3 separate regions of the Homo sapiens genome follow, and regions 2 and 3 are each linked to region 1. Evidence: fine-mapped expression QTL. A gene starts in region 1. Each other region holds a variant in brackets. All regions are shown on one strand. Distances are between the middles of the regions.

The links.
Region 2: its variant is fine-mapped to the expression of OASL in whole blood (TOPMed, PIP above 0.99).
Region 3: its variant is fine-mapped to the expression of OASL in whole blood (TOPMed, PIP above 0.99).

The regions. Positions count from the first base shown.
Region 1 is chr12:121,033,117-121,043,867 of GRCh38, forward strand. It overlaps OASL (2'-5'-oligoadenylate synthetase like), which reads right to left and starts at 6,130. Exons shown (of 6, transcript NM_003733.4): 1 at 5,658-6,130; 2 at 345-627. The coding sequence starts at 5,855. RefSeq lists enhancers at 5,294-5,795, 5,796-6,295, 5,875-6,294.
Region 2 is chr12:120,813,807-120,824,557 of GRCh38, forward strand. The region is part of intron 1 of SPPL3 (signal peptide peptidase like 3); the gene reads right to left. Among named protein-coding and RNA genes, the nearest start is that of SPPL3, 85 kb to the right of the region's middle. RefSeq lists an enhancer at 9,082-9,151. The variant T/C (reference allele first, on the strand shown) is at 5,481.
Region 3 is chr12:121,089,805-121,100,555 of GRCh38, forward strand. It overlaps LOC105378258 (a long non-coding RNA gene), which reads right to left and starts at 3,191. Exons shown (of 4, transcript XR_007063492.1): 1 at 1-3,191. RefSeq lists an enhancer at 3,280-3,781. The variant T/C (reference allele first, on the strand shown) is at 5,849.

The sequences.
Region 1 (10,751 bases):
TATTTCACCATCTTGGCCAGGCTGGTCTTCAACTCCTGACCTCATGATCCACCTGCCTTGGCCTCCCAAAGTGCTGGGATTACAGGCGTGAGCCACCGCGCCCAGGCTGCAATCATGTATTTATCTCTGCAATTCTTTGGTCAATTTCTGTATTCCAAGTTGAGCAATATGATAGCCAGAGTTGAGTTAATCCTGTGCACTGCAATAACCCAGCCCCAAGCATAGGACACAGATGAAATGAATAAATGTGGGTGTGTGCACGTGGCCATGAGTAAAGGTGAGACACTGGGAAGTCTCCTGGGGTGGGCAAGTGTGTGAGTCGGGTGAGCTTCCCCTCCCCTTACCCAGGGCTCTGTAGGCAGGCACAATGGTGACCGTGATGGGCTCCGCAGTCCCCCTGGTCTGGATGGTGAAGACGAGAGCATCGGGGACTCTCTGCTCCATCCTCAGGTCCTCGAGCCCGAGGTCCAGCAGGTCCTGGCTTTGCCACATGGTTTTCCATATCAGCCTCAGAACATCTTTGTGATGCTTGGCTGCCTCCTGGAAGCTGTGGAAACAGCTCAGAAACGCCACCAGCTCCACCTCTCTGGTGCTCCTGAGAACCGTGCCATTCCCGAAGGAGCCCACCTGCAGAACACAGAGCCCCGTCACCCTGAGGCCCACTGCCATGAGCCAGGCAACCCCTGCGGCACTTCACATGCACTGTCTCACTGAATGCTCACCACCCGCTGAGGGATGGGTTGTGGGTAGTACTAATACCCACACTTTACAGGTGAGAAAACTGAGATGTCTGGAGGATCTCGAGACATGGGATGGAGAAATGGGGCAGCCTGAAAAAGATCTTGACACTTCCCTGTTTCTTAGCTAGGTAAATGTTCTGACTCCTAAGACCTTCATCTCTAAAATGAAAGCAATGGCAGAATATGAGTCACTGGGCTACTGGGAGGATCAGATGAAATAATGTATGCCAAGGGTTTGGTGGGGTGCCTGGCACACAGGAAGTCAGCAACACATTTGTCTTTCTCCTCATTAGTCATTTGTCTCAGGTCTCGCAGTTTGCAGCCCTCAGAGCCCAGACTCTTTTTTTTTTTTTACACAGGGTTTCACTCCCGTTGCCCAGGCTGGGCTGCAGTGGCATGATCTTGGCTCAAGCAATCCTCCCACCTCAGTCTCCCAAGTAGCTAGGACTACAGGCCTGCGCCACCATGCCTGGCTAATTTTTGTATTTTTTGTAGTGACTGGGTTTTGGCATGTCGCCCAGGCTGGTCTCGAACTCCTGGACTCAAGCGATTTGCCCCCTTGGCCTCCCCAAATGCCCAGCTTCTTATCTACTACACTGCATTGCTTCTGAGACCCAGTCTTCTTACCCACAGAGTAAGGCCTACTCCAGAGGAATGGTAGCATCTACTCCATAGGGTTGTTTGAGGATTCTGGGGGTGGTGGTGGGGCTGAATAATTTCATGACATTATAAAGCAAGGAGCAAGTTTGCCTGGTGGATTTAAGAGCCATAGGCTGTGAAATGGAGCAGCCTGAAAAAGATCTTGACTCTTCCCTGTTTCTTAGCTGGGTAAACATTCTGACTCCTGAGACCCTCATCTGTAAAATGAAAGTAATGTTGGAACAAGAGTCACTGGGCTACTGGGAGGATCAGATGAAATAATGTATGCCAAGCGTTTGGTGGGGTGCCTGGCACACAGGAAGTCAGCAATACATTTCTCTTTCTTCTCATTATCCAGCTGACTTAGACAATCTCTTCTGCTGCCGGGGGGTCAGTTTTCCTGTTAGTAATGGAAGGAGGTCGAGAAGGGATTTTTCGATGTTTTGAGATTCTAGATGAGCTCTCCAGGCCCTGGTGCCTCTGGTATGCAAAGCGCCACAACTCTCTGGCCTCCTCTCCTTCTCATTCTGTGTTGGGAGGTGGAATTGCTAGGGAGGCATCAGACCCCCAGAAGGCTACTTTTCTTGGTGGTTGGAGTCACTGCACAAGAATCAGATTCCAGCTGTTGCCGGATGATATAACATGCCCTGTGTGACATGAGCACGGATGCTGGATGACATGAGCACGCCCTGTGTCTGGCACCCATAAGAGCCCTGTATACATATTATTCCTTTTAATCTTTACTTCCCAGCCAGGCATGATGGCTCATGCCTGTAATCTCAGCACTTTGGGAGGCCAAGGTGGGCGGATCATGAGGTCAGGAGTTCGAGATCAGCCTGGCCAACATGGTGAAAGCACATCTCTACTAAAAATACAAAAATTAGCCAGGTGTGGTTGTGTGCACCTGTAATCCGAGCTACTGGGGAAGCTAAGGCAGGAGAATCGCTTGAACCCAGGAGGCAGAGGTTGTGGTGAGCTGAGATCTCGCCACTACACTCCAGCCTGGGCGACACAGCGAGACTCCATCTAAACAAAACAAAACAACAAAAAAAAACGCCTTCACTTCCTGTATTGAGGTGGGTACTAGGAGAATTATCTCCAATGTACAGATGAGAAGACTGAGGCAGTGAGGAGCTTGCCATGGTCTCCCAGCCAGAAGGCAGCAGAGTCAGAGAAAGAGCCAGAACTCAAGTAGGGGATGGTTCTTCCGCCTCTTTCTTCCTCGTGACCCAAGGCTGTGAGCCAGGCCCTGCTTCCAAGGGACCATGGGCATTCAGACCCAGCACCTCCACCCCCTGGGAGAGGGTTGGAGATGGCACCCTGTGTGTGAATGAAGGACACATTCCCCCCGAAGGCCAGTCTAGACTTCCCTTTCTTTTTGAGACAGGGTCTTGCTCTGTTGCCCAGGCTGGAGTGCAATGGCACGATCTTCACTCACTGAAGCCTCGACCTCCTGGGCTTAAGCAATCCTCCCACCTCAGCCTCCGGAGTAGCTGGAACTACAGGCATGCACCGCCATGCCCAGCTAATTTTTTATATATATTTTTGTAGAGTCGGGGGTCTCACCATTTTGCCCAGGCTGGTCTCGAATTCCTGGGCTCAAGCAATCCTCCCACCTTGGCCTCCCAAAGTGCTGGGATTACAGGCGTGAGCCACTGTGCCTGGCGTAGACTTCCCTTTCTGCCTTTCCCACTGGTAAGATCCAGGCAGAGAGAAAAGAACACATCCAGAACAGGCTTCCTGATTTGCTTCAGTTTTAAACCTATTTAAGCACAATTCATTTGAAGACGAGCATTCCCTTATGTGGACCAGCTCCGCTCACTAGATTTTCAGAGGGTGGGGAACGGGAGGGTTTAGACTCTAAATAAGATATATTATTCCTCATTAGTCATGGCTCACTGGGGATTGCTACCATTTAGTGGTTTCAAGAGGAAAAGTGGCTATGATGTGCAGGAAGTATTTGAGGCTTAGGTAAATAGCATTTCCTGCCGTAAAAACTCATTCTTGGCCGGGCGTGGTGGTTCACACCTGTAATCCCAGCATTTGGGGAGGCCGAGGTGGGTGGATCACTTGAGGTCAGGAGTTCGAGACCAGCCTGGCCAACATGATGGAACCCCGTCTCTACTAAAAATGCAAAGATTAGCCAGGCGTGGTGGAACACACACACACACAATAAACTTATTCTTGTAGCATCCTCCTCTTACCAGACATTCCTTATTCCCTCCACTTTATTCTCAAGTTTGTTGGGGAGGGGGTGGTCTAGGAGGGTCTGCCAGAGTCAGACTTGAGTCCCAGGCCCAGAAGAAAGCTTGGCAAGAATTATAATGATGCTTCTGTTTCTGAGCATTTATCGTGCATGAATCATTCAGCCTGCATTGCACCACTGGCTTGGTGAGGGAGAGATGATGATGATGCCCCAATCACAGATGAAAAGAATGTGGGTTTGAGAAAGAAGAGTGGGAAGGTCAAAACCACACAGCTGGTAAAGGAAGAAGCGAAGAGTCTGTCTAATATCAAAATTTGTGGTTTCTCACTTATAAATTGTATGGCCTCAGGCTTCATATGCTGGGGATAGGTGCAAAGAACGGATAGGGGCCCAGGGCTTCTAGATCCCTCTGTGAGTTGGTTGCCCCTAGAGAGAGAACTTGAGCACTGGGCTGGGAGTCAGGGGTCCTAATTCTAGTCTTGCCTTTGCCACCAACTCGCTGTGTGACCTTGGGGTATCTCTCACCCTCTCTGTGCCTCGGTTTACTTAATTTTTTAAGTGAGTCATTGGTGAGACTGTCTGATTCTCCAAAGTCTTTCTAGCTCCGACCCTCTTGAATTTTGATCTTAGCTAGCACAGGCGGTGGCATGAAACAGCTGGAGGAAGGGCTTGGGGGAAAATCTCAGTGAGGGGGGCTTGGGTCCCTTGAGTCAAGTTCAAATCCCAGCTTCAACACTGTGTGACCTTGGGCAAGTCACCTCACCTCTCTGAGCCTCCATTAAAAAATCATTTTAGGCCGAGTGCAGTGGCTCACTGTAATCCCAGCACTTTGGGAGGCCGAGGAGGGCAGATCATGAGGTCAGGAGATCGAGACCATCCTAGCCAACACGGTGAAACCCTGTCTCTACTAAAATACAAAAAATTAGCCGGGCGTGGTGGTGGGCGCTGTCGTCCCAGCTACTTGGGAGGCTGAGGCAGGGGAATTGCTTGAACCTGGGAGGCAGAGGTTGCAGTGAGCTGAGATCGTGCCACTGCACTCCAGCCTGGTGACAGAGCAAGACTCTGTCTCAAAAAAAAAAAAACAAAAACAAAAATCATTTTATTGGCCGGCCAGACATGGTGGCTCACACCTGTAATCCCAGCACTTTGGGAGGCCAAGGTGGGCATATTCTTGATCCCAGGAGTTCGAGACCAGCATGGGCAACATTGGTGAAACCCTATCTCTACAAAAAATACAAAAATTAGCTGAGCATGGTGGTGCATGCCTGTAATCCCAAGCTATTTAGGAGGCTGAGGATCACCTGAGCTCAGGGAGATTGAGGCTACAGTGAGTGGTGATTGTGCCACTGCACTCCAGCCTGGGTGACAGAGCGAGACCCTGTCTCTAAAAAAAAAAAAAGTCATTTTATTATCAAAAAGTTAAAACACATAGAAAAATAGATGATACAACTAACACTCATATACCCAACTAGTTGATTCAACAAGTCTAAATTCCTGGCTACATGTGCTTAATCTAAGCCACGTTAAAGTAAATTATAGGCACCAAGGAACTTTGTCCCTAAAATACTTCAGTGTTCGTGTCCAAACAAAAGACAACCTTCTGATAACCACAAAACTACTGTTACACCTAACAAAATCAACAATGATTTCCCATATCAGATATATGTACTATCTGATATCTAGGCCAGTTGTCCCCAAACTATATTTTACAGATGGTTCATTCACACTAGGATCCAACCAAGGACCTCGCATTGTATTGGTTCTGAGCCTCCATTTGCTAATCTGTAAACTGGGCAAAGAATAGTACCTATCTCACAGAGTGCAAGAATTAGAGATAGTGTATGTTAAGAGGTTAGTCCAGTGAGCCCCCAAATGTGAGCTATTATTACTAGACTCATTCTACTCAAGGCAGTGGTGCAGTGGGGTGTAGACAGCTAGGTGGGATGGGGTATTCTGAGATGTCATCAGCATGGGCTAGGGATAAGGAGGACAGGGGTCCCCAGCATCCCCAGGGACGTGGACTCTGATACTGGGTTTTGTCTTGCGTGGGGGCTGGAGGAGCCCAGTCTTACCTTGACTACCTTCAGCACCCGCACATCCTGGTCCAGCCCACGCTTCCCCTGGAAATGCTCCTGCCTCAGAAACTCCTCCACGGTCCGCACAGCGTCTAGCACCTCTTCCTTCCACTCCCGGTGGGGCTGCAGCCACTGAGCCACGAAGGAGTCCAGCCTGGAGGCTGGTGTGCTATACAGTTCCTGCATCAGTGCCATCTCTGTCCCGAGAGTACCGCTGCTGGGCAGATATATAGCCAGGCTCCTACCCAGCTCCCTGGCACACACCTCCTTTTTTAAGGTAGCTCCTCCTCAGCTGCCCTCCAGTGCTCTGTGGGAGGAGGGACCCTAGCAGAGAGGAAACCAGGTGTGACGGGCTGACTCCAGGTCCCCCTTCTTGGAGACACCCTTGCTGCAGTAGGGGCACAGGAGGACTCTGGGCTGAGGCTGGAATATCTGGGGCCACCTTAACAGGCTGGCCGTCTAGTCAATCTGTCATCAGTTTCGATTCTCAACTTTTAGAGTTCTCCTTTATGACGTTGGGAAACTGAAGTTGGATAGTGTTTGACCCCAAAGGAGGCAACTTGCCCAGTAGGTTGGGGTTGGATAGTTGTTAGTCAATTCAACTGCTTACATCTGTCTAAGGAAATTGAGGCTTGGGAACGGAAGGGACTCACTAGTGTTCAGGTGGTGGAGTGAGAATCTGGAGCCCAAGAGAACAGACTGGGAATTCTAGTCTACCTGTGCCAGACTCTAACCTCTTTGACCCTCACTATTCATAGAGTGGGTTTTTTTGTTTTTTTGTTTTTTTTTTTTTTTGGCCGGGTCTTGCTCTGTTGCCCAGGCTGGAGTGCAGTGGTGCAATCTCAGCTCACTACAACCTCTGCCTCACGGGTTCAAGCGATTCTCCTGCCTCAGCCTCCCTAGTAGCTGGGACTACAGACATGTGCCACCACGCCCGGCTAATTTTTTTTTTGTATTTTTAGTAGAGACGGGGGTCTCACCATTTTGGTCAGGCTGGTCTCAAACTCCTGACCTCAAATGATCCGCCCACCTCGGCCTCCCACAGTGCTAGGATTACAGCGTGAGCCACCGCGCCCGGCCCATAGAGTGGGTTTAACAGGTATTATGATTCACGCACTGAACCAAGAAGTTCATGCATTGAGCCAAGAAGACAAAATAAGATGAGGTTCCTGTTCCAAGGGGACTCCCAGAACGGTGGAGGAGACACAGAAAAAAGAGACTGCAAAAGTCCAGTGCGATGAGTTAAGTAGGAAAAAAGCATGAAAACATGAAGCCGGCAGATGAGTTTCATTTGGTGTTAGCAGACACCTGCTTGAGAGGAATCTTAAAGACTGGGGATCCGGGCTGGGCATGGTGGCTCATGCTTGTAGTCCCAGCACTTTGGGAGGCCAAGGTGAGAGGATCACTTGAGGCCAGGAGTTCAAGACCAGCCTGGGCAACATAGCTGGACACCTGCAACTTCCCAAACTCTGAATAATATTAAGTGCTCCAGGGCTTAGTCCTGGGTCCTTTTCTCTTCTTGTTCTAGACTTACTCCCTTGGTGATTTCAGCCAGCGTTTAAATGTTTTTACTCTGGCAACTTCCACATTTTAATTTTATTTTTATTTATTTGTTTATTTTTGAGATGGAGTCTCACTGTCTCGCCCAGGCTGGAGTTCAGTGACACAATCTCGGCTCACTGCAACCTCTGCCTCCCAGGTTCAGGCGATTCTTGTGCCTCAGCCTCCCAAGGAGCTGGGATTACAGGAGCCCGCCACCGCGCCTGGCTAACTTTTTGTATTTTTAGTAGGGACAGTGTTTCACCATGTTGCCCAGGCTGGTCTTGAACTCCTGATCTGCCCTCCTCGGCCTCCCAAAGTGCTGGGATTACAGGCGTGAGCCACCATACCCAGTGACTCCCACATTTGTATCTTAAATCCATACCTCTTCCCTGAAATCCAGACTCATGTATCCAACTCCCCACTCCACATTGGCTTTGAATTCCGGTCTGCCCTTTGCCACACTTGTAACTTCTCTGCTTCTGTGGTGAGGATGATTGCAAGGGCAAGAACAGATGTAGGGAGATGGTCAGGACACTGCACAGTGGTGCAGGTGAGAGGCAGTGGTGGCCTGGAGTTTAAAACTCCAGTTTTTGTTTTAAAAACAAAAAGTTTTTTAAAAAATAGCTAGGTGTGGTGGTGTCCACCTGTAGCCCCAGCTACTTGGGAGGCTGAGGTGGGAGGACCACTTGAGTCTAGGAGTTTCAGGCTGCAGTGAACTATCATGGTGCCACTGCACTCCAGCCTGGGTGACAGCATGAGACTCTGTCTCCAAATAAAAAATAAAAAAGACTGGCACTCCAGCCAGGAGGATGAGGGTACAGCATAGAGGCTGAGAAGTATAAATAATGCTAGGATATGCCAGGGACTCAAGTGTGCTGTGTGCCTTGGGATGAAAGGGTGAGCAGGGGAGAGGTTAGAAATGTACCTGGACAGGTGGGCAGGATTGAATCTTGGAGTGCTATTCACTCATTCGTTCACTCATTCAACAGATACTTACTGGGCACCTACTCTGTGCCAGGCAGGTGCTGTGGATACAACAGTGAACAAACAGTAGTGAAAAATCCCTACCTGCAGATAGTTTTCTTTCTGGTAGTGGAGACAAACAACAAATAGGATAAATAGGTAAAATTATAGTAAAGAAGACGGTGATAAGTGCTAAGCAGAAAAACAAAGCAAGAGAAGGGATTAAGAGGTTGTGTGTGTGTGTGTGTGTGTGTGTGTGTGTGTGTGTGTGTGTGTTGGGGGCATGTATTTAGGTTTCAGTCTTACATAAGGTGATTAGGGAAGGCCTCCCTGAAAAGGAGACATCTGAGCAAAGACATAAGAAGGTGAAGAGTTTGGGAGGCCAAGACGGGTGGATCACAAGGTCAGGAGATCGAGACCATCCTGGTTAATACGGTGAAACCCCATCTCTACTAAAAGTACAAAAAATTAGCCGGGCGTGGTGGCAGGCACCTGTAGTCCCAGCTATTCGGGACGCTGAGGCAGGAGAATGGCGTGAACCCAGGAGGCAAAGCTTGCAGTGAGCCAAGATTGCACCACTGAACTCCAGCGAGACTCCGTCTCAAAAAAAAAAAAAAAAAAGAAGGTAGAGTGAGCCACGTGTGTAACAGAAGGAAGAAGATTCTTCATGGCAGAAGGAGTGGAAAGTACGAGGACCCTGTGGTGGTACTGCCCGGTGGCAAGTATAAGGAACATCAGTGTGCCTGGAACGGAGTGATCAAGAGCAGAGAGTGGAAGGGAATGCGGTTTAAGTAGTAAAGGGTGGCAAGGCAAATAGATACAGGATCCTTTTTTTTTTTTTTTTTGAGATGGAGTTTCACAATTGTTGCCCAGGCTAGAGTGCAATGGCACAATCTCGGCTCACTGCAACCTCCACCTCCCAGGTTCAAGCGATTCTCCTGCCTCAGCCTCCTGAGCAGCTGGGATTCAAGGTGCCCACCGCCACACCTAGCTGATTTTTGTACTTTTAGTAGAGACGGTGTTTCACCATGTTGGCCAGGCTGGTCTCTAACTCCTGACCTCAGGCGATCCACCCGCCTCGGCCTCCCAAAGTGCTGGGATTACAGGCGTGAGCCACCGCACCCAGCCAGGATATAAGATCTTTTTAAAAAGATTTATTCCATAAACAAGGAGCAGGAGTGGATAGGATCTTGAAGACGACTGTTAGGAGTTGGCTTTACTCTGAATGAAATGGGGAACCACTGGGGAGCATTTTTTGTTGTTCTGTAGGAGTCTGACACCATACATTGGAGAGTTTTGAGTGGAGGAGTGACACGGTCTTTCATTTTAATGGAATTAATCACATTGGCTGCTGGGAGGAAATTAAATTAGAAGCAGAGGGTGGAGTGGAGGTGAAAGTGGAGGCAGAAGTATGGTTAGGAGGCTACTGCAACAGTCCAGGCAAGAGGTCAGTTGACTTGGATCAGAGTGGTAGCAGTGAAATAGTATGTTTTAATTTTTCTGATTTTGGAACATTTCAAACAAAGTGGAATAATACAATGAACCTCCATGTACCATCACCAGTTTCAACAATGATCAACTTATAGACAGTCTGGTTTCAATTCTACCCCCATCCCTAGATTCCCTACTGTGTTATTTGGAAGTGAATCTGGACATCATGTCATTCCGCTGGATATATTTTGACTCCAAGGCTGACAGGTCTTGCTAATGGGTAGAGTATGATGAGAGAGAAAGATCAGAGTCAAGGTCTAAGTCCGGGGCTTTTGGCCTTAGCAACAGAAAGGTTGAACTGCCCTTAACTGAGGTGGGATAGGCTGGGCATGGAGATGAGGAAGGAACTCAGTTTTGGAACTGAAGTTTGGGGTGTCTGTCAGAGACCCAGGTGGAGATATGTGGTGGGGAGTTGGATATGCGAGTCTGTATTACAGGGAGGAGGTCTGGACTTGAGATAAAATGTGGGGGTCACCGGCATAGGGATGTTTAAAGCCATGACACTGAATGAGATCACCAAGGGAGTGATGACACAGCAGGAAGAGAAAAAGACCCAGGACTGAGCCCCAGAGCACTTAATATTATTCGGAGTTTAGGGAGTTGCACGAGTCCAGCAAAGAAGAAGGAAAAGAAGTAGCTAGTGAGGTGGAAGAGAAATCAGGAGTGATGGTTTGAAGGCCAAGTGAAGATATTGTTTTAAGAAAGAGGAAATGGGATGGGCATGGTGGCTCACACCTGAAATCCCAGCACTTTGAAAGTCAAGATGGGAGGATCGCTTGAGCCCAGGAATTCAAGATCAGCCTGGGCAACATGGCAAAACCCCATCTCTACAAAAAAATACAAAAATTAGCCAGGTATGATGGTGAGTGCCCATAGTCCCAGCTACTCAGGAGGCTGAGGTAGGAGGATCACCTCAGTCCAGGGAGGTCGCGGCTGCAGTGAGCCATGATCATGCTACTGCACTCCAGCCTGGGTGACAGAGTGAGACCCTGTCTCAAAAAAAAAAAAAAAAAAAAAAGGAGAAGAAGAAGAAGAAGAAATGGAAATGATCCACTGGGTTAAAAGAGTGCCAGGTGAATCTGCTTTTTGTCCTGA
Region 2 (10,751 bases), 220 kb before region 1:
ACCAATCAGAAACTGCCAACTAATCTCTACTAGAGACTTTCTACTTTAACCAATCAAGTATTTTCTTTCTTTTGCTTCTGCAAAAGCTTTATAAAAGTTTTGCCCTCAGGCCCCCTCCAAGGAGCTGTGATCCACTTGTGATCTGGTGCTGCCTGATTCATGAGACACTGCTCAAAAAAACTCTCCAAAAGTTAAACATAAGTTTATCTTTTAACAGGTGAAATAATATGATTTAAGATTTACTTTAAAATACTCTAAGAAAATAAAACATGGGAGGGATACACCAAAAAAAAGGTAGACTTTTTAAAATTATGAAGCTGGAATGATAGGTATATTGTATCCTTCTCTCTTCCCCCCACACCAGGCTTTGAGATGGTAAGACAATTTGAATACAATTAAAACTACTAGAGGCAGATGAATACAAGAATATATGTTTTGGATCATGAATTCTGTTTCACAGCACCTCACAGGGGTGCTACCTTTTCCTAAATTTCAGTCAGCCGGGGAGTGGAGAAAGGGAAGGTAGGAGACATGAAGGCCACTCGAGCCTCTCTCTTGGGTCCCATCCAGCAATGATGCAGCTGTGGCTGTCCAGGGTCCTCTTTTGAACAACCAGATTATGTAGACAAGGCTCACATACCAAGAGATATCTGAGCTATCATGTATCATGTATTAGGAAAATGAACTTCATCAGTTTCTCTTTATTCTAAAATTATGTTTCTTGCTGTGTGACATAATCTTTGCACACATCTTCCAAAATTCTGAAAACAAGAAGGAACATTTTCTTAAAATTAAAAAAAATTATGACTAGGTTATATATTCATACAAAAATCAAAAGTATATTAAAAAGTACATACACAGAGGTCTTACTCCCATCTAGTCATCACCCAACCCCCACCCTCTCAGTCATTTTTAGATAACAACTTTTAAATAACCACATTTTTTAGTTTCTTATCTAGCCTTTTGGAGTAAACATACAATATAAGAACATTATTTCTCACCACTTCTTATGAAATAGGTAGAATATTAAATATACTGCTCAGTATCTCCCTCTACCCCCCTTTTACAATATAGCCTAGAAATCTTTCTGTATCAGGATGTGGAGAACTTCCTTTTTAAAATTTTCTTTTAAACATCAGCATGATAGTCCATTGTGTAGATGCCCCACAGTTTTTGTTTTGTTTTGTTTTGTTTTTTAAGAACAAGTTCCTTACAGGTGGACACTGGGGTTGTTTCCAAAAACTCTGCTGTTAACAAGTAATTCTGTAATAATGGGCCTTGTAAATTATACCTGCATTGCACACACATGAAATGACCTGTTTGTATAACATTCCTCAAAGTCAGATTGCTGGCTCAAAGGGGAAATGCACTTGCAATTTGATAGATGTTGCCAAAGTGCCCTACAGAGAGGTTATACCATTTCACACTCTCATCCGTAATGAACTCAATGCTCCTACTTTCCAAAGTGAGTATTGTCTAACTTTTGAATTTTTACCCATCTGAGAGATGAAAACTGGTATCTCAGTATGGTTTTTATTTGCATTAAAATTGTAATTAAAATTTAAAAATTAAAGTGAGATTGAGCAGCTTTTCTTTTTTATGATTAAAGGTCAGCAGGTATTTTTAAAAGGCAATTTAAAGTTTTCTCCAGACTCCAGAGCTATAAAAAAACAAGAGCGGCTTTCTTCTGAGGAACTTTTCTTCTGATGGTGTCTTACTTGGATGACTTTGTTTTTGTATCCTTTGTATTTTGAAGCATATTGTCACTACCCTCAAGGCAGATTAAATATCTACACTTCCCAAATTCACTGCCTTAAAGTCTGATACTATTGTTTAATTATTTTGCTACATCTCTCAAATCAATGGAGACTCTCTAGAAACTCTTAACCTCAGACTTCTGGAAGTCTGGAATTTTTATTTTATTTTATTTTATTTTTTGAGACAGAGTCTCGCTCTGTCGCCCAGTCTGGAGTGCAACGGTGCGATCTCGGCTCACTGCAACCTCCGCCTCCTGGGTTCAAGCAAAATTCTCCTGCCTCAGCCTCCCAAGTAGCTGGAATCACAGGAGTCCGCCACCATGCCCAGCTAATTTTTGGTATTTTTATTAGAGACAGGGTTTTGTCACGTTGCCCAGGCTGGTCTCAAACTCCTGACCTCAGGTGATCCACCCACCTCAGCCTCCCAAAATGCCAGGATTACATGCGTAAGCCACCACACCTGGCCTGGATTAAATTTTCAAAAACCAGCTCCTCCCTGACAGATCTTCTGTGCTGTGCTCCAGCCTCTGAGGAGCTGTAGCTACTGACTTTCTTCATAGTCTGTTTTTCTAGATGAAGGTTTGACCATGTGCAAAATATAAGAGTGTGACTAAGGTTGCCAGATCTCACCTCCATATCCTGGCAGTGAGCATGTCCCCCACTGCAGAACTAAATGCCTGATTTCAAAAAAACTGTTCAGATGTTTAATGGTTTCTTCTAACTTAAGTTTTGTTTTAGCTTTCAAATAAACCTATACAAGAAAATCTGATTAAAGTTCACCCCTAATATTGTACATGGTATTTTATAATTTATACTAAGATCTTAAAAAGTTCTAACAATTTGGCAAACTTTACCAAATATCACATAACTAGAAGTTATAGATTATTTTACGATGTTATTTGAAATTTCATATACTATTTTCAATTCAAACTATCATTATAAAAGTTTTTGTTGTTGTTTCTTTTTGGAGACAGGGTTTCACCTGTTGCTTAAGCTGGAGTGCAGTGGCACGGTCTTGGCTCAGTGAAACCTCCAACTCCTGGACTCAAGCAATCCTCCCACCTCAGCCTCCCAAGCAGCCAGGACTGCAGGTGTGAGCCACCACAGCCTGCTAATTTTTGTATTTTTTGTAGAGACAGGGTTTCACAATGTTGCCCAGGGCTGGAGAACTGTGAATCTCTGTGATTATTAGTGTTTTTTAAGATCAAGAGCCAGATGCACTTCTGATCTTAGGAGGCCTAATTCCAGAGTCTCTCAAATTGACTTCAATATCTGCCCAAAACTGGATGACAAACTGAAGTTTCTATCTGTAATTATACAGTAATTAGCTATGTAATCCTCCCTGGGCAATCCTTTATATCTTTCTATTACCTATAAAATCCTCTTTGGGCCCAGATAAACTTGAAGGCCAAATTAATTTTTATTTTTCAAGGGTCTAGGTTTTGGCTGGGTGTGGTGGCTCATGCCTGTAATTTTGACACTCTAGGAGTCCGAGGTGGGAGGATTACTTGAGCCCAGGAGTTCAAGACCAGCCTGGGCAACAAATGAGATGTGACTCTATGAAAAATTAAAAAAAAAAAAATCAGCCAGGCACGGTGGGGCGCGCCTGTAGTTCCAGCTACTTGGGAGGCTGAGGTAGGAGGATCCTTTGAGCCCACAAGTTTCAGGTTGCAATGAGCCATGATCGTGCCACTGCACTTCAGCCTGGGTGACAGAGCGAGACCCTGTCTCAAAAAAGTTTAAAAAGTCTGTATTTTTATATTGTTTTGCTTTCAAAAACAGAAATATTACCAGAAATACTCTTTCCATCTTTCATGTTGCCCATCATTGACATAGCCAAAGAGGCACTGCCACAGATGACCCTGTTTCCAGGTGACTAAAATTGGTATTTTCCTCTTTTAATCACCCAATATTTACAGATTTAAAAATGGCTTAATATAAAATCTTACATTATACCAGTAGACATATATGAAGGTAAGCCATCATCTTACCCTGGGTAGCAACTCTGGTTCGTTTATTCAACCCATGGGAAATTCTTCCCTAGGGTCTTTTTAAAAAATGTGGCCAGCCTTAAGGCTAATTTACAAACTCTTCATTTTCCCTCTGCTAGACTGCTTTATCCCATATTTGTTTATGCCCTTGGTCTCCTGAAGTAGGCTCACTTTTCACCTACTCTACAAGCTCATAAAAATGAGCACAGAGCGGTTTCAAAAATGTCTAAAGGTTTTCACTGCTGGTAACGACAGGGAGGAAAAGGGCCCCTCCTGTATCATCCTCTATTCTGTTCTTTGCCCACACAAAGAAAGCAAGCGTTCATCAGCATTTCAGAAATAGACACAGATTTTACTACAGGAGCTGGGGTTTGGGGATCTGGGGTAAGACTACGATCAATGGAGCAGACAGGGAAGAAAAGGTATTCCAAGGAAAAAGGGTGGGTAAGTCTGGCCAATAATAGGAAATCAAAGCCCAGCAATCTTATTTCACAGTCTCTCCCTATCCTACATTTCAGACTCTACCAAAGCATCAACAGAAATGTGTCATTCTTCAGGCCCTCCTACTGAGGTGTCTGTTCCCAGAGGCTCTGGGCGGACATGAAAGACAGGAACTACTCTATTCTGAGATAAAGGAATTCTTACTGAAACACAGAAAGAAACTAAATACATGCATTTGAGACACACCAAAATCAGGTTAGCCAAATGTATTGAAAACAGTCTTGAAGACTTTGTCAACTGATGTATCAGTATAGGCCAGCTGTTGAGTTGAAATATTTTATATATTCATTATGAAGACCACTAATTCTTTAACTACATTCCTGCAAGCCTTTACCTTAATAGACAAAGAGTTACCAGAAATGTCTCTCATATACAAGACTAAACTCTAAACCCTAAGATTTTTAGAACCATGCTGGATTTTAGTAACTGCTCTACAGTCAAACATCTATTTCTAGCTACTTTACCAGCAAGTGCTTATAACACATATCCTGCTAAAAATCATGCCAAACTGAGACACAGAGAGTACTGTTCTATAACGTGTTCTATGTGTCAGCCTTCCAGCTATACAATGAAAGCATTCTTGTCCACCCCAAAACCAAGCAACTACTATTCTAACACTGCACAGACATTGCCTTAGACCAGCACTTCTCTAACTTTGTGGTTGCAGAACAATTTACACTCTTAAAATTGAGGACTCCCAAAGAGCTTTAGCACATGTGGGTTAGTGATATTTACCGTATTAAATTAAAACTGAGAAAAAGTTAAAATATTATTTATACACAATAAAACCATTACATGTTAACATAAATAACATTTTTTAAAGGGCAAATATCTATTTTCCAAAACAAAACAGAACAAAAAAATTAAGCGAGACAAGGAACATTCTTCACATGTTTGCAAACCTCTTTAATGTCTAGCTTAAATGGAAGATAGCTGGATTCTCATATCGGCTTCTGCATTCCATCTACTGTCATATGTTGTTTGAACTGAACTCCATGGGGAAAAAAATCCAGCTTTACACAGATGGATAGTTGGAAAAGAAGGAGTACTTCATAGCCTTTTCAGATAACTATCAATATTCTTCTTTGATACTACACTAAAATTCAACAAGTGGTAATTTCTTAAAGGTTTACTGCAATGTGGAATTTGAAACTATCTCAATGGATTTTTTTGAATTTTACTATATTACATTAAAATCCACTGGACTATCCTGAACTTTGTGTGAATCTTT[T/C]ACCCATGGATGATTTTGTAACATCATGCATTGGTAATTTGGAAGATACTGATTTGCTGAGTTATGCCGCTCTTCCAGATGTTGTCTCTTTTCATTATACAATATCTGAAAAATCATATTGTTAGTACCATTCTTGGGGCTTATGGTAGCAAATACAAATTTTCAAAAATTCTATTTTCACTTGAAAGCTCAAATTTTATCATTGATAAAAACACTTTTTTTCCCTTTAAGTGACAGGCTCACTTGATTCGTTTTTGAGAAACTATCTGCCAAATATGCCCAAAAGTCATTCTTTCAAGTAAAAATGGTATTCCAATTTTAAACAAATCTAGTTCAGTTAGCATCTCAAATGACTGCACAAGTGGTTTCCTCAAGATAACCAATGGTACTTTGGAATACAGCAGAAGTGCTTTGTGGAAATTTTCCATTTTATCATTAAAAATTTCCATTTTATCACTTAGTGTACTCAAGGGTTAAAACTTAACAAAAGAAACTTTTACTGCTTCGTCAAGAACATTCTAAGTGTAAATGGCATTTCAGAAGATAAGCTGGGTGCCTGGTGATGGAGAACACCATGATTACCAGGACCGCCTGGTGCCACTGCCTTGATTCAGGTGAGGGCGCACCAGAGGTTTTACCCACCATTGCTTTGCCACCATGAGAAAAAAGGTGCGAAAATGAAAAAGACAAGTAATGTTAGTAGTACTATGAAAACCGTATGACCCTATGGACCCCATGACAGGGTCTCAGGAATCTCCCATGGTCCATGAGCCACATTTCGGGAATTGCTGCCTTCTACCTTTACCCATAAGCTCTGGCTATGCAAACTGCTAACACCTTCTCACATGCAATTCTTACAGATCACAAAACACCAAAGGTTGTTAGAATTTTTTTGCTATCCAAAATTTCAAATTTAAAAATTATATGCAAAAAAACTTGTATTCCATGCTTACAGAAATGTTCATTTTTCCCTTTATGGAAATATGTTGAAATAGGACTTAATTTGTATCTTTCTCTAAATTTTTTTTTTTTTTTTTTTTTTTTGTGAGACAAGAGTCTCGCTCTGTCGCCCAGGCTGGAGTGCAATGGCACAACCTTGGCTCACTGCAAGCTCCGCCTCCCAGGTTCACGCCATTCTCCTGCCTCAGCCTCCTGAGTAGCTGGGACTACAGGCGCCTGCCACCACATCCGGCTAATTTTTTCTATTTTTTAGTAGAGACGGGGTTTCACCGTGTTAGCCAGGATGGTCTCGATCTCCTGACCTTGTGATCTGCCCGCCTCGGCCTCCCAAAGTGCTGGGATTACAGGCGTGAGCCACTGTGTCCGGCCTATCTAAAAATATTAGTCTAACATTATAATGTTGGAGATCATTGTTTTCCACATTTCCCCATATTTTAAAGGAAAAAACCAAATATGTATTGCAAGCTTAATAACAGAATAGGTATGTTATGAAATAAAAATTTAATACATTAAATTTAACCATTTACGTGCAAGGTACAAGTAGTAAATAAAATAGTTACTTAAGGCTGGGCGCAGTGGCTCACGCCTGTAATCCCAACACTCTGGGAGGCTGAGGCAGGAGGATTGCTTGAGCCTAGTAGTTCAAGACCAACCTGAAAAACATATGGAGATCCCACCTCCACAAAAATATCAAAATATTATCCCTGCATTATCACAAAATATTTCATGGAAAGACATATATGAAATATACTATATGTTAATATTTTATATTTTACCAAGACTAATACAATGAAAAAATGATTACTTCCATCAGAGATACAAAATCTGCTGACTGAGCAAATTCATATGAAAGAAAGGTATTAGTCTTCAAGGCAGTAAAGATGATCTGGAGTAATTTTGTTTTCAAATACATCTTATTGCCTAGGATAGATAAGAAAGGATTTATTGCCGGGGGCGGGGAGAGGGATTGAAACAGAAAGAAGACCCCACATTAAAGGCTTCGATGGCAATATGCTTCAACTTTTTCCTATGAATTATCCTCTAAGACAGGTCCTCACATCATAGTTTCCAAAGCATGCGCTTTTGATTGTGACTTGCGCACACAACCAGCAACACACTGTGGTTCCTGTGTTCAACACTGCAGCCGGAAACAGCCCTGGGCTGGCTGCAGCAAACATAAGGCAAGGGAAAGAAATTAGGCAACTGGTTTCCTCGGACAAAGCCAATAGGTACAAGCTGGATAAAGCAGTTTTGCATTTTTATTTGGCCAAGGGACTTATTTACAGAAAAAAAAAATTATAATACAGCTTTTGAAGGTATCTTTGTATCATGATCCAAGACTGCTTTAGAACTTGTACAAAATAAATCTCCTTAAAAACTTGCAAAAATCTATGTTAACATGCTGGTTGAAATTACTATTTCATAAGAAAAATGCTACTGGATATCTAAATACCCTCTCAGGATATGTGCTCATAAAACTTACTAAAGCCTAGGTATTTGCCCCAAATAACTGAAAGCAGGGACTCAAACATACTTGTACACCAATTTTCACAATGGCTGGGCCGTGAATAATGGGTTGGGTTGGGTGGAAGTAACCCAAGTGTCTATCGGTGAATGAATGGATAAATAAATTGTGGTACAGCCATCCAATCAAATATTATTCATCCTTAAAAAAGAAGAAAATTCTGATACATGCTACAACATAAATCAACTTCAAAAACATGATGCTATGTGAAATAAACCAGAAAAAAGAGACAAATATTGTTATGACTCAACTTATATGACAGACCTAGATTAGGCAAATTCATAGAAAAAGAAAGCAGAATAGCGGATACCAGGACTGGAGAGAAAGGGAATGGGGAGTTTTTGTTTGATGCATACAGAGTTTCTGTTTGGGATGATGAAAAAGGTCTGGAAATGAATAGTGGTGACTGTTGCACAAAACATAAGTGAACGTACTTAATGTTACTGAACTGTACACTTAGAAAAAGTTCAATGGTAAATTTCAAATTGTATGTTATGTATATTTTACAATAACAACTTTTATAAAACTTAAGGAAAATTTTAAAAACTGCTCTTAACCTCTAAAAGAACTGGTTTTTACTGTATCTGTTTCATTAAAAGATTATTCCCTGCCATTTAATGCTGATAATAGTTTTAGAAATGATTCTAGAAACGAAGTCTTAAAAGCATCCCTACAATTCCAAAATCTAACTTCAAGAAGAAAATTTCCAGTGACTTTTAAAAATGAATGCTACAGATTGACATTTAGTTATTTCCTGGGGGCTAACCTCTCCTAGTGACAAATTCTGTGGACAAGCAAACAGGAGCCTAAGAGTTTAAATCACAGTTCATCCCTTACTTCTATCAGGACAAACTAGGGTTTCTGTCTGGGATGATGAAAAAATTGAAGAAGGAAAGTCTCTTGAGCCCCAGAGCAAGGAGGGATTAGACAGACTGAATTTCAGTAGCAAATCTCCAATGACCCTGGGGGCACACTTCTACCTGCATATACCACGGTCACCTCAAATTCAACACATCTAAAAATCAAACCAAATCTCTCCATCATCTTGCAGTATCTAATGTCTGTTACAAGCTCCAACTAGAATAAATACCTCTGGTCACTGTTCTGTCCTATCTTATGTATCACCACATGCATGAGGACTCTGCTAGGTACTAGCACTCCATGATAAAGACTCAGCCCCTACCACCCACCAAGAATTGCCTAACAGGGAGACAAAAAGAAGTAAACAGGTTGCCAAATTAAACAGACAGGTGTAGGAACTCAGCATGGAGGCCTATGTGACAGTGCGACCTGCTGGGAGTTCACAAAGTAGTCAAGCAGTTCAGTTGGGCTAGAGAGGAGAGAGCAAGAGTGAGTGATCATGCGTGCAAGAGACAAAAAGCAAGAGCTAGAGCATATTCCCACAAAGGTGTCTGTGAGAGACGGAGAGTGTGTGTGTGGGGGTGGGGGGTGGGGGGGCGGCGGCGGTGGCGGGGAGGACAGAGAACAAAAGGAAGAAAGGCCAGTTCACATAGGGCTACCAAAGCTAGGGATCTGGCTGTATTTGCCGTCTTCACTGGTATCTCCTTGTCACACTGTGCCTTCTATCCCCAGCACTCCATGGAATTTGCTCTCCCCAAGATCATCAACAATCTTGTTGTTACTTAATCTAGTAACACTTCAGTCAATATCTTACTTGATATCCCCGCTCCCCTTGCAGGATCTGACAACAGTAGCCACTTCCTTTTCTTGAAACAATTTTATCCCAGCTCCCACGACATCCTACTGGATTTCTTCCCTGCTCTCTGGCTCCGTATTTTCTCCTTCTCCTCTGCCCATCAGGGCTCTGTCATCAGTTCTCTTTACTTCTTACTCCACATCTCATCTCTGGGTGATACTGTCTACTCTCATGCCTTTGGTTATCATCTATATAGGCTGATGATTCCCTTTTCCAAGTTGTAACAGCAATCTTTTACTGAGTCATGTGCCCAGCACTGTCCTAAGAGCTTCCCATTATGATCCCCATTTTGTACAGATGAAAAAACAGAAACATAGTGGGGTGAATTAACCTATTTGTTTTACTATAGTCATTGTGTTTTATATAATTCACTCTATCACAAAGACATTTTTTTTTTTTTGAGACGGAGTCTCACTCTGTCGCCCAGGCTGGAGTGCAGTGGCGCAATCTCAGCTCACTGCAAGCTCCGCCTCCCGGGTTCACACCATTCTCCTGCCTCAGCCTCCCAAGTAGCTGGGACTACAGGCGCCCGCCACCAAGCCCAGCTAATTTTTTCTATTTTTAGTAGAGATGGGGTTTCACGGTGTTAGCCAGGATGGTCTCGATCTCCTGACCTTGTGATTTGCCCGCCTCAGCCTCCCAAAGTGCTAGGATTATAGGCGTGAGCCACTGCACCCAGCCCACAAAGAAATTTAAAAGAATGGCACGAAGAATTGTTAGGAAGAAGCAAGCTGAAGACCTACGTATCACATAAAACCACTTTTATTAAAAATGGGACTATTTCACATTTCTGTATTATTTGAGTTTTTAAAATAACACTAAAATTTTTTTTTAATGGAACACAGGATTCTGGTGGAAACGTTAGCAAAAAAGACAAAAAAGTGTTAGTGATGTCTGATTTGGCTATATTTTTCACTTATACTAAATACTAAAAGCTTGTGTTCTTCAGTCGGATATAGAATTTAACAAGTAATACTACAGAGTAAGTTCTATAGCAGAATTTAATTTTCAAAGAGCCCAATTTAAATACAATGGTTTTCTTAAACTTTTATTTTTTCTGAGACAAGGT
Region 3 (10,751 bases), 57 kb after region 1:
GATTCCTACTCTCTGCCTCTCGCCAGCTTCCAGGATGGAAAGGCCTGCTTTGTCACACAGCATGATGAAGACGCCCGTCCCCAGCTCCTGTCACAGCTTCAACAGGAAGGAACTACCCTCTCTTAAGAAATGTCAGCGATGTCCATGCAGGGTCACTCCAGCCAGGACCGTCCCCCCTGCTCTTTCCCACTTAGAAGGAGCAGGAAAATCATAGGACTCAGGGGATGATGATGTCATGAGTCTCCTGACATTAAAACCCTGGAATCTATCCTCCCCAACCCCAACTCACCGGGCCCGGGGACCCTTGTGACTTCCTTCTATCCCTCTATATCTTCTCCCTCTGCAGGCCCAGCCTGGGGCCGGAGCCCTGCCTTCTCCCACAGAGTCCACTGAGCGGCCATCTCTGGATTCCTGGAGTCCTTGATCTTGTCGTCACTGCTTTTAGCATTGAGGTCCTCACCTTGGGTTTTTTCTCAAGCACCACTGGGAAACTGTGTTCTAGAGAGTAAGAAATGTCTAGGACAGCCTTGTTATGAGAAGCATGTTTCTGTAGGCAAAAGTGACCCTTTTCAAATGGAGCAGTCTCATCTTTTTGCTTTGTGGGGATAAATATCAAGAGGTCAATTGCAGGCTAATGGATTTCTATGATGATACAAAGCATTTCACGTGGTGTTCATGATCCAAATGGTTCCTCAAGCCATAGTATGCCTCATTTTACACCTACTTTTGCTTAAGCAAGAATCCTGTTTTCTTGCAAAGGCCCTCAGAAGCCAGCAGACACCTATTTCACCCAGGAGGTTCGGCAGGGAATCGGGTGGGGATTTCTTTGTCATTACACTGACTTGATCTTTCCCCACCCTGCAATGCACAACCTAACATGTCCTCCTCCTAGGAACAGAGCCATGTGCCTGCCCTGATGCTCAGCCATTGATGAAGCCCCTTTGTCATTTTACACAGTGCATGTGGCCCAACCACACAGAAGCCGTGGCTGGCAGAGGTGATGATGGGAGGCAGATTTTCCACATTCTTGGCAACATTATCTGTAGTGAAACTTTAGACTTCAGTTGAGAAGGTCGCTGAGTGCATGGAAGATCCTTCTTTCCCTGATTTCTACCAGAACTGGCTGGGCAGTGGCTGCAGGGTTACTGGGAAATTTCAAACTTGGGGTGGAGCCACAGGACTCCAGTGCAGGGGGCTGCTGGTGTCCCTGGTCCAGGCCTTGCTGACACTGGGGGGCGTTGGAAGGGCCTGGGCAGATGGGAAGAAGCTCCCACTGGAGCCAACAAGAGACCTTGCAAGGAAAAGCTGGGAAGGGGGAGTGGCGACCATGGGGTGACCTCAAAGACAGATGCTGGCAGTGAATGAATATTGCTGAGGAGGATAAGGCCGTCTGAAAAAGCTGCCTACTCCATGATTCCAAGCCTATACAATTCTGGGAGAGAAAACTCTAGACACAGTGAAAAGGATTCTTGTTGCCAGGGCTTCTGGCAAAGGGGAGAGGGATGCACAGGGGAAACACAGGAAGTGTTTAAGGCATGCAGCTACTTCGTATGGGTGGTGAATGGCATTCGGAGTTTGTCACAACCCATAGAGGGCACAACACGGTGAACCTCCATGCAAACTCCTGACTTCAGATCGTAAAAATGTATCCATATTGGTTTAGTCATTGTTACACACATGGACCACACCACTGAAAATGGGGTTAAGAAAAGAAAAGGGTGGACAAAGGATCTGAGACCTTTCTGTTCTGTCTGTTCCATTTTCATGTTAATTTCAAACTGTTCTACACAATGACTATTTTAGTCAAGGTTGGCAACACTCTTTTGAGTGGATGTTTAACACTCAGGTGAATGTGTCAACATAAGATTGAGACGTTGCTTTCCAGTAAAATGGTACCATCCTTTAAATTGTAAATACATCTTTACTTCTACAGTTGCAGAAACAGCAATGACTTCATTTTAGATGTGTGTAGATGAACTGCAAGAAGACTAAGGCGTAACAGTGTGAGAGTTCTGACTTCAGTACGGGACACAGAACCCCCTAGAATCTTGATGATTGAATGAACTTCACTGACTTTCCACAGCACCTTCAATGGATGGTTTTCTGGGATGAACTCAATTGTCTGCCCAGTTGTGGGTTTTTCTGACCCACTGCGTGGGGCCAGCAATAGACGGTGCTGACTCCTTGGTAACCACTGTCAGATCCTGGAGGCAACAGCCTCCCAAATGTATGACGATAAAGACAGCTGTTGACATCTTGTTGACAGGATTTATGAGAAATTCATACAAATTGATTCACACTTCAACCTTTTGATTCTCTTGGGATCTTGAGAGATGTGGCTGAGCCCAGAGAAGAGCTCATCTCAGATGATGTTTAACACTCACCTGAATATGTAACATTAGATTGAGATGTTGCTTTCTATGAAAAGTGTCGCAACTTTACATAGTATGTTTCTTTTCTAGTTGTAAGACTAGTGATTGACTTAACAATTTAGATTTTTCACAGATGAACTCAAAGAAGACCACAGCATAACAGTGTTAAGAGTTTTGTCTTAAATATGGGACACTGAACCCACCAGGAACCAGGATGATTGAATGAGCTTAACTGATTTTCCACAGTACCTTCAACTGATGGTTTTTCCCGCTGCACAGAATGGTGTGGCCAGCTGTGGATTTTTCTGACCCACGGCCTGGGGCCAGCCATAAAGTGTGCCGACTCCTCAGGAACACTCTCCTACCCTGGAGTCAACGTTCTCCCAAGTTATTACAAGGAAGACATCTTGCTGGGAGAATATCATAGAGAAACTTACAGCAATTGATTCCCAGTTCAAACTTTTGACCTTTTTCACCATCTGCATAAGAATCCACCTGAATCCGAGTAGGGCTCTGGGAAGCCCCTGCAGTGTGTGTTGCACTTAGTACTCAGCAGACTGTGTAGGCAAATACCTGCCTTCAGAGGAGATGATATAGAGAGGCAGCAAGTACTGTGTCCGGAATTGGTGGGTTCTTGGTCTCACTGACTTCAAAAATGAAGCCGCGGACTCTCGTGGCCAGTGTTACAGTTCTTAAAGGCCCCCTGTCTGGAGTTTGTTACTTCTGATGCTCGGATGTGTTTGCAGTTTCTTCCTTCCGGTGGGTTTGTGGTCTCGCTGGTTCCAGAGTGAAGCTGCAGACTTTTACAGTGAGTGTTACAGCTCATAAAAGCAGCGTGGACCCAAAGAATGAGCAGTAGCAAGATTTATTGCAAACAGCAAAAGAATAAAGCTTCCACACTATGAAAACGGGTCGGAGCGGGTTGCCACTACTACCTCTGGCAGCCTGCTTTTATTCTTATCTGGCCCCACCCACATCCTGCTGATTGGTCCATTTTACAGAGAGCCAATTGGTCCATTTTACAGAGAGCTGATTGGTCCGTTTTGACAGGGTGCTGATTGGTGCATTTACAATCCCTGAGCTAGACACAAAAGTTCTCCAAGTCCCCACCAGAGTAGCTAGATACAGAGTGTCCATTGGTGCATTCACAAACCCTGAGCTAGACACAGGGTGCTGATTGGTGTGTTTACAAACCTTGAGCTCTATATAGAGTGCCGATTGGTGTATTTACAATCCCTTAGCTAGACATAAAGGTTCTCCAAGTCCCCATCAGACTCAGGAGCCCAGCTGGCTTCAGCCAGTGGATTCCGCACGAGGGCCGCAGGTGGAGCTGCCTGCCAGTCCCGCAAGGTGCGCCCGTGCTCCTCAGCCCTTGGGCAGTCGATGGGACTGGGCGCCGTGGGGCAGGGGGCAGCACTTGTCGGGGAGACTCAGGCAGTGCAGGAGCCCACGGGGGCGGGGTGGAGGTTGGGGAGACTCAGGCTCAGGCATGGGGGGCTGCAGGTCCCGAGCCCTGCCCCACGGGGATGCAGCTAAGGCCCGGCGAGAAGTCTAGCACAGCAGCTGCTGGCCCAGGTGCTAAGCCCCTCACTGCCCGGGGCGGCGGTGCCGGCCGGCCGCTCCGAGTGCAGGGCCTGCCGAGCCCACGCCCACCTGGAACTCGCACTGGCCCGCAAGCGCTGCGCGCAGCCCTGGTTCCTGCTCGCGCCTCTCCCTCCACACCTCTCCACAAGCCGAGGGAGCCGGCTCCAGTCTTGGCCAGACCAGAAAGGGGCTCCCACAGTGCAGCGGCGGGCTGAAGGGCTCCTCAAGTGCCGCCAAAGTGGGAGCCCAGGCAGAGGAGGCGCTGAGAGCGAGCGAGGGCTGCTAGCACGCTGTCACCTCTCACTGGGGGGCCAGGCAGTCCTGCTCTTATCCCAAGTCAGTTTCCCACAGGAGGGATCTGCCCAACCTAGTGCTGGCTTTTTCAAGTGCTTCCTTTGCATATTCTAAATCAACTCAAAATGGATTAGAGACTTCAATGTAAGACCTGAAATCATAAAACTACGAGAAGAAAACACAGGGGAAAAGCTTCCTGACGTTGCAAACCGTACATCTCATAAGGAGGCAATATCAAGAATATATACGGAACTCATGGAACACAGTAGCAAAAAACAAATCACCTGATTGAAAATGGGCAAAGAACCTGAACAGATATTTATCAAAAGAAGACATATAAATGCCCAACGGGTGTATGAAAAAGTGCTCAACAGCACTAATCATCAGGGAAATGCAAATCAAAACCTCAATGAGACATCACCTCACACCTGTTAGAATGGCTATTATCCAAAAGAGGAAAGATAACAACTGTTATTGAGGATGTGGGGGAAAGGGATCACTGTACACTGTTAGTAAAAATGTAAACTTGTACAGCCATTATGGAAAATAACATCCATCCACAGATGAATGGGTGAGGGAAACGTGTCTACGCAATGGAATATTATTCAGCTCCAAAAAAGAAGGAAATCCTGCCATTTCCAACAGCCTGGATGAACCTGCTATGCTAAGTGAGATAAGTAAGCACAGAAAGACTAATACTGCATGATCTCAGCCTGGTACAGTGGCTCACGCCTGTAATCCCAACACTTCAGGAGGCTGAGGCAGGTGGATCACCTGAGGTCAGGAGTTTGAGACCAGCATGGCCAACATGGTGAAACTCCATCTCTATTAAAGATACAAAAATAGATTGTGGTGGTGCACGCCTGTAGTCCCAGCTACTCGGGAGGCTGAGGCAGAATCGCTTGAACCCAGGAGGCAGAGGTCGCAGTGAGCCAAGATGGCACCACTGCACTCCAGCCTGGGCGACAGAGCGAGACTCCACATCAAGAAAAATAAATAAATAAATAAATAAATAAATACTGCATGATCTCACTTATATGTGGAATCTAAACTAACCAAACTCATAGAAGCAGAGAGTAGAGTAGAATAGTCGTTGCCAGGGACTGAGGGTTGGAGAAAACGGGGTGTTGTTTAATGGGTATAAAGTGTCAGTTATACAAGATGAGTAAGTTCTGGAGATGTAACGTACAGCGTGTAACAACACTCTGTTGTATACCTGAAATTTCTTAAGAGAGTAGATCTTAAGATCCTTAACCACCCCACCTCCAAAAAAGAAAGAAAGTGGTAACAATGTAAGATGGTGGGTGTTTTAGTTTGCGGTGATCATTTCACAATGTGTATTAAATATCCGGTTGCCCACTTTAAATATATACAATGTTTACTTTTCAAGCATATTCAGATAAAGCTGGGGGAAAACAAACAGCTTTCTGGGGCCATTGTTTGCAGACCCCTGAGTTAGGGCATTGTGTGATGGCTGGGTCAATTTCACTTCAGCATGGTAAGAGGCACGTGACAAAAACTGGCATGAAAGGGGCTGTTGGAACCAAGGGGCAGGAAAGGGCTGCCCTATAGGATCCGCCAGAAGACAGACCGGCATT[T/C]CACGAAGTGAGCAAATTCCGGAGGAAATAAAGGATTTCCGTTTTAAGGGGTTGGGAGGCAAGAGAAAAGGCTGAGAGGGTGTGTGTGTCTGAAATGGGGTCTCTGGGTGAGAAAACGTGTGAGATAAAGTGCGAGGCTGGAAAAACGCGCACGTGTGCAGGAGGCGGGGATCTGCTGCACCGAGTGTGCACATTTGCACGAACCGTGGGGGCGTCTGCGGCTGTGGGTGGAGAGGAAATCCTGGATCACACATCTGAGAGAGGGGGTGTGGGTGGGAGTGGGAGAGTATGTAAGAGCGTGGGTCGTGACAGGTGAGGGACTTGTGTGTGCAACTGTGCGTCCTGCGAGAGTGAGGAGGTCTCGGACTGAGGAACTGCGTTCAGTGCTCAGTGGTGAGTTCCCACGCAAGAGCCTGGGGAGTCAACCAGAAAGACCCGCACGCGGGGCGGGCCCAGCGACCTCGGGCGCCATCTGCTGATTACCAGACGCCACTACCTGAGAAAGGCCCCTCCAGTCTCCTCATTGCCCAGCTGCGGACCCTAAGCTGAGCCATAACCGTCCTACCAACCCACGTCAGCAGAAGAGCCCAGTGGGAGGGCGTGTGTTCACTTCTGCTCCTCTGGGCAAAGACGCCCAGGTCAGAAACACCCACCCGACCCTCCCACTACCCAGAGACAGCCCCACCTGCACAGCTCAGAGCAGGACCACTGACCCTCTGGCTCTCCGGTCATATTTGCTATTGAAGACCAGAATAAAGTATTTTTATCAGGATTGAATACATGACTCATGAATGAATAAATTCATTCTCCTTACATATCGGTTCCTATTGAGAAATATGGTGGCTAGAATTTATTTCCTCCGGAAAGAGGAATAAATGTGGAGCCCCTGGGTTTGGTGCTATTTATTACCCATTTCTCTGATGTTGTAAGAAAAGAGAGATTCAGAAGAAATATCACATTTCAGCCCCGAACTTACGTAGCTTGCTGCCGTTCTAGGTGATTTACTTAGATTGGCTTCTGCATTTTGACAAATGAGGAAATTGGGAGAATTAAAGCCTCTGGTTTTAAAGCCTGCTGCTGGGTCAAGTAGAACTGTGACTTTTATTTTTTTTTTTTTAGACAGAGTCTTGCTCTGTTGCCCAGGCTGGAGTGCAGTGGCACAATCTCAGCTCACTGCAACCTCCACCTCCCGGGCTCCCTCAGCGATTCTCCTGCCTCAGCCTCCCAAGCAGCTGGAACTACAGATGCCCACCACCACGCACGGCTAATTTTTGCATTTTTAGTAGAGGTGGAGTTTCACCGTGTTGGCCAGGCTGGTCTCAAACTCCTGACCTCAAATGACCCACCCACCTCAGCCTTCCGAAGTGCTGGGATTACAGGTGTGAGCCACCGTGCCCGGCCCAGAACTATGACATTTTGTTTTTGTTTTTCTCTGTTTCTTTGAAAAGAAATGGAGTGAAGGTGCAGAGATATGAGATAAATTATTTAAACACATTATTATTATTGTTGTTATTATTATTATTATTATTATTATTATTATTGAGTCGGAATTTCACTCTTGTTGCCCAGGCTCGAGTGCAATGGCATGATCTCAGCTCACTGCAACCTCCACCTCATGGGTTCAAGTTATTCTCTTGCCTCAGCCTCCCAAGTAGCTGGGATTACAGGCATGCGCCACCACGTCGGGGTATTTTTTTTTTTTTTTTTTTTTTTTAGTAGAGATGGGTTTCTCCATGTTGGTCAGGCTGGTCTCGAACTCCTGACCTCAGATGATCCACCCACCTCGGCCTCCCAAAGTGCTGGGATTACAGGCGTGAGCCACCGCACCCTGCCTTAAACACGTTATTAAATCAGTAAAATGAAGGGCCTGACAAATAAATGACCACTGAGCTAGGATGTAGAAGACCAAGGCCTGGAAGAAGGGGAGTCTGCCTCTTCTGTCACTGGTGAGCTACGACCTTCCCTGCAGGCACACCCTACGCTGTCCTTCAGGCTGGCTCTCCATGCCCTCGGGGGCCTCGGTCCAAACATCTGGACAAAGGCCCTATGAAAGGACCTCTAACAAAATATTTTCCACCATATTCAGCTAGAGTTGCATGTTTTTCTATTTTTCCTAATGAGAACATAGGACTTGAGAACTGATCATGTGTCTTCGCTTTAATTTGAAATGATCAGAATAATCTGAAAAAAACAGAACTATTGTCCAGGAAATGAGAGAGAACTGAATTCAGTCACTTAAATATATAATCAAATCCCTTCCCCAGCCTTCCCCCACATGTGCTGGTTTTTTCATTCTCACTCTTCAAACTGATCACCTATTAATCATCTAAAACCACAACAAAATGCTTTTGAAAACTTTTTAAAAAGAAGTGCATCTCATTTTATGTAAGTTGTGATGTAAGAAAAATAGTAAGATTATAAAAATATTTTTTACTTTTGATACAGTGACTAGCAAAGGTAAAAAAAAAAAAAAAACATAGGACATCGAAGGGTCAATTCATTGTCTGGGAAGAGGTTTTGGATTTATTTACCAAGCTTCTAAACATGGATCTTCCTAATCATAGAGAAAAAGCCCTTTCAAAGCAGTTGTTGTAGGCCGGGTGCAGTGGCTCAGGCCTGTAATCCCAACACTTTGGGAGGCTGAGGTGGGTGGATCACCTGAGGTCAGGAGTTTGAGACCGGCATGGCCAACATGGTGAAACTCCATCTCTATTAAAAATACAAAAATAGATTGTGGTGGTGTACGCCTGTAGTCCCAACTACTCTGGAGGCTGAGGCGGGAGAATAGCTTGAGCCTGGGAGGTGAAGGTTGCAGTGATCGCGCCACTGCACTCCAGCTTGGGCGACAGAGACTCCATCTCAAAAGAAAAAAGTGTGGTCTAGTGAGGGTGATTTTAAACTGATTAGGTTTAATTCATTTCCTTGATCTAAATATGAAGTGTTTTTACTCTGTGAGCAGAAAGTTTTTGAAACTAGTTCATGAAGGTGAGTCCAGTGGTATTTTTCTTTTTTACTTCTCAGCCTTCTACGAAAGGCAAATATAAGACAGCAAAATCCAAAGAATGGAGTTATTAAGGCTGCAAGTGGAGTCCGAGGCCAGTTCCATGCCAGGCATGGTGCGTGCACTGAGAGACAGGGATCCTCTGCTCCAGGAGCCGAAGGCACATGCTGTTTTGCTTACTACTGAACTCTACTACACATTTAAAGAAGAACCATTACCAATCCTACTCAAACTCTTCCAAAAAACTAAAGAGGAGGGAACACTTCCAAACTCACTTTACAAGGCCACCATTACCCTGATACCCAAACCAGACAAGAACACAACAACAAAAAAAAGAAAACTACAGGCCAATATTCCCGATGAACATAGAGCCAAAATCCTCAACAAGATACTAGCAAACTGAATCTAACAGCACATCAAAAAGACCATTCACCATGATTGTTGATGGCTGATGCAAGACCTCAGTTCTTGTCTTCTTAGTTTAAGAAAATTTAAACAGACTCACAGCAAAGGAGATGCAACATAGAGTAATTTATTGCAAAAGAAAAAGACTATTTTGGGCTAGGTGCAGTGGCTCACACCTGTAATCCCAGCACTTTGGGAGGCCGAGGTAGGCAGATCACCTGAGGTTGGGAGTTTGAGACCAGCCTGACCAACATGGAGAAACCCCATCTCTACTAAAAATACAAAATTAGCTGGGCATGGTGGCACTCAGGAGGCTGAGGCAGGAGAATCACTTGAACCCAGGAGGCAGAGGTTGCGGTGAGCCAAGATCGTGCCATTGCACTCCAGCCTGGGCAACAAGAGCGAAACTACATCTCAAATAATAATAATATTTTGAAAGTTTGGTGCAAAATAGATAATATACCCTGGGAGAGAGAATTTTGTTGCTCATAAGGGCGAGACAGCAAAAACTGGCACTAGGAAGACTCTCTTTATGGAAGTCTTACACGATTATTCATAAAGGGTTGGAAGAGGTGTTGGTAGTAAGCATCTTCTGGGTGGTCCTCTTGCCCATGCACAGTAGCTGTACATGATTGTTCATACATTGCATGTCTCATTCGCATCTTAAATCTCCACCCAGGGGTGGTTTTTTTTACTATTATAATGAGCAAAGGGTCAGTTTGAGGACAGGTAAAATCAAACTGTTCATGCTCTCCAGAGGGGAAAGTCCCTACTGAAGATAGCTTTGCTTGAATGAGCTCAATTACAATGCAAATACTGAGGCTTATTGTGTTGACTGTATAGTCACCACAGTTACTGCATCCTGAGAACATGGTTACTTCTTTGACTACCTATCCTGCTTCATGATCAAGTGGGATTCATCCCAGGAATGCAAGGATGGTTCAACACATGCAGATCAATAAACATGATACATAACCTAAACAGAAGCAAAAACAAAAACCATATGATTATTTCAATAAATGCTGGAAAATAATTTTGTAAAGTTTAGCATATTAAAAACCCTCATCAAAATGGTTATAGAAATAACATAGCTCAAAAAAAATGAAAGCCATGTATGACAAACCCATAGCTAACATTGTACTGAATGAGGATAAATGGAAGGTCTTTCCTCTAAGAACTGGAATAAGACAAGGATGCTCACTTTCACCACTTTATTCAACATAATACTGGAAGTCCTGGACAGAGCAATTAGGCAAGAACAAGAAATAAAGGGCATCCAAATTTGAAAGGAAGAAGTCAAATAAGCCTTGTTCACAGATGACACGTCTTATACCTGGAAAAATCTAAAAACTCTACGAAAAAACTGTTAGAACTGATAAACAAATTAGTAAAGTTGCAGAATACAAAATCAACATACAAAAATCAGTGGCATTTCTAATTTTTTTTTAGACAGTCTCACTGGGTTGCCCAGGCTGGAGTGCAGTGGCACGAACATGG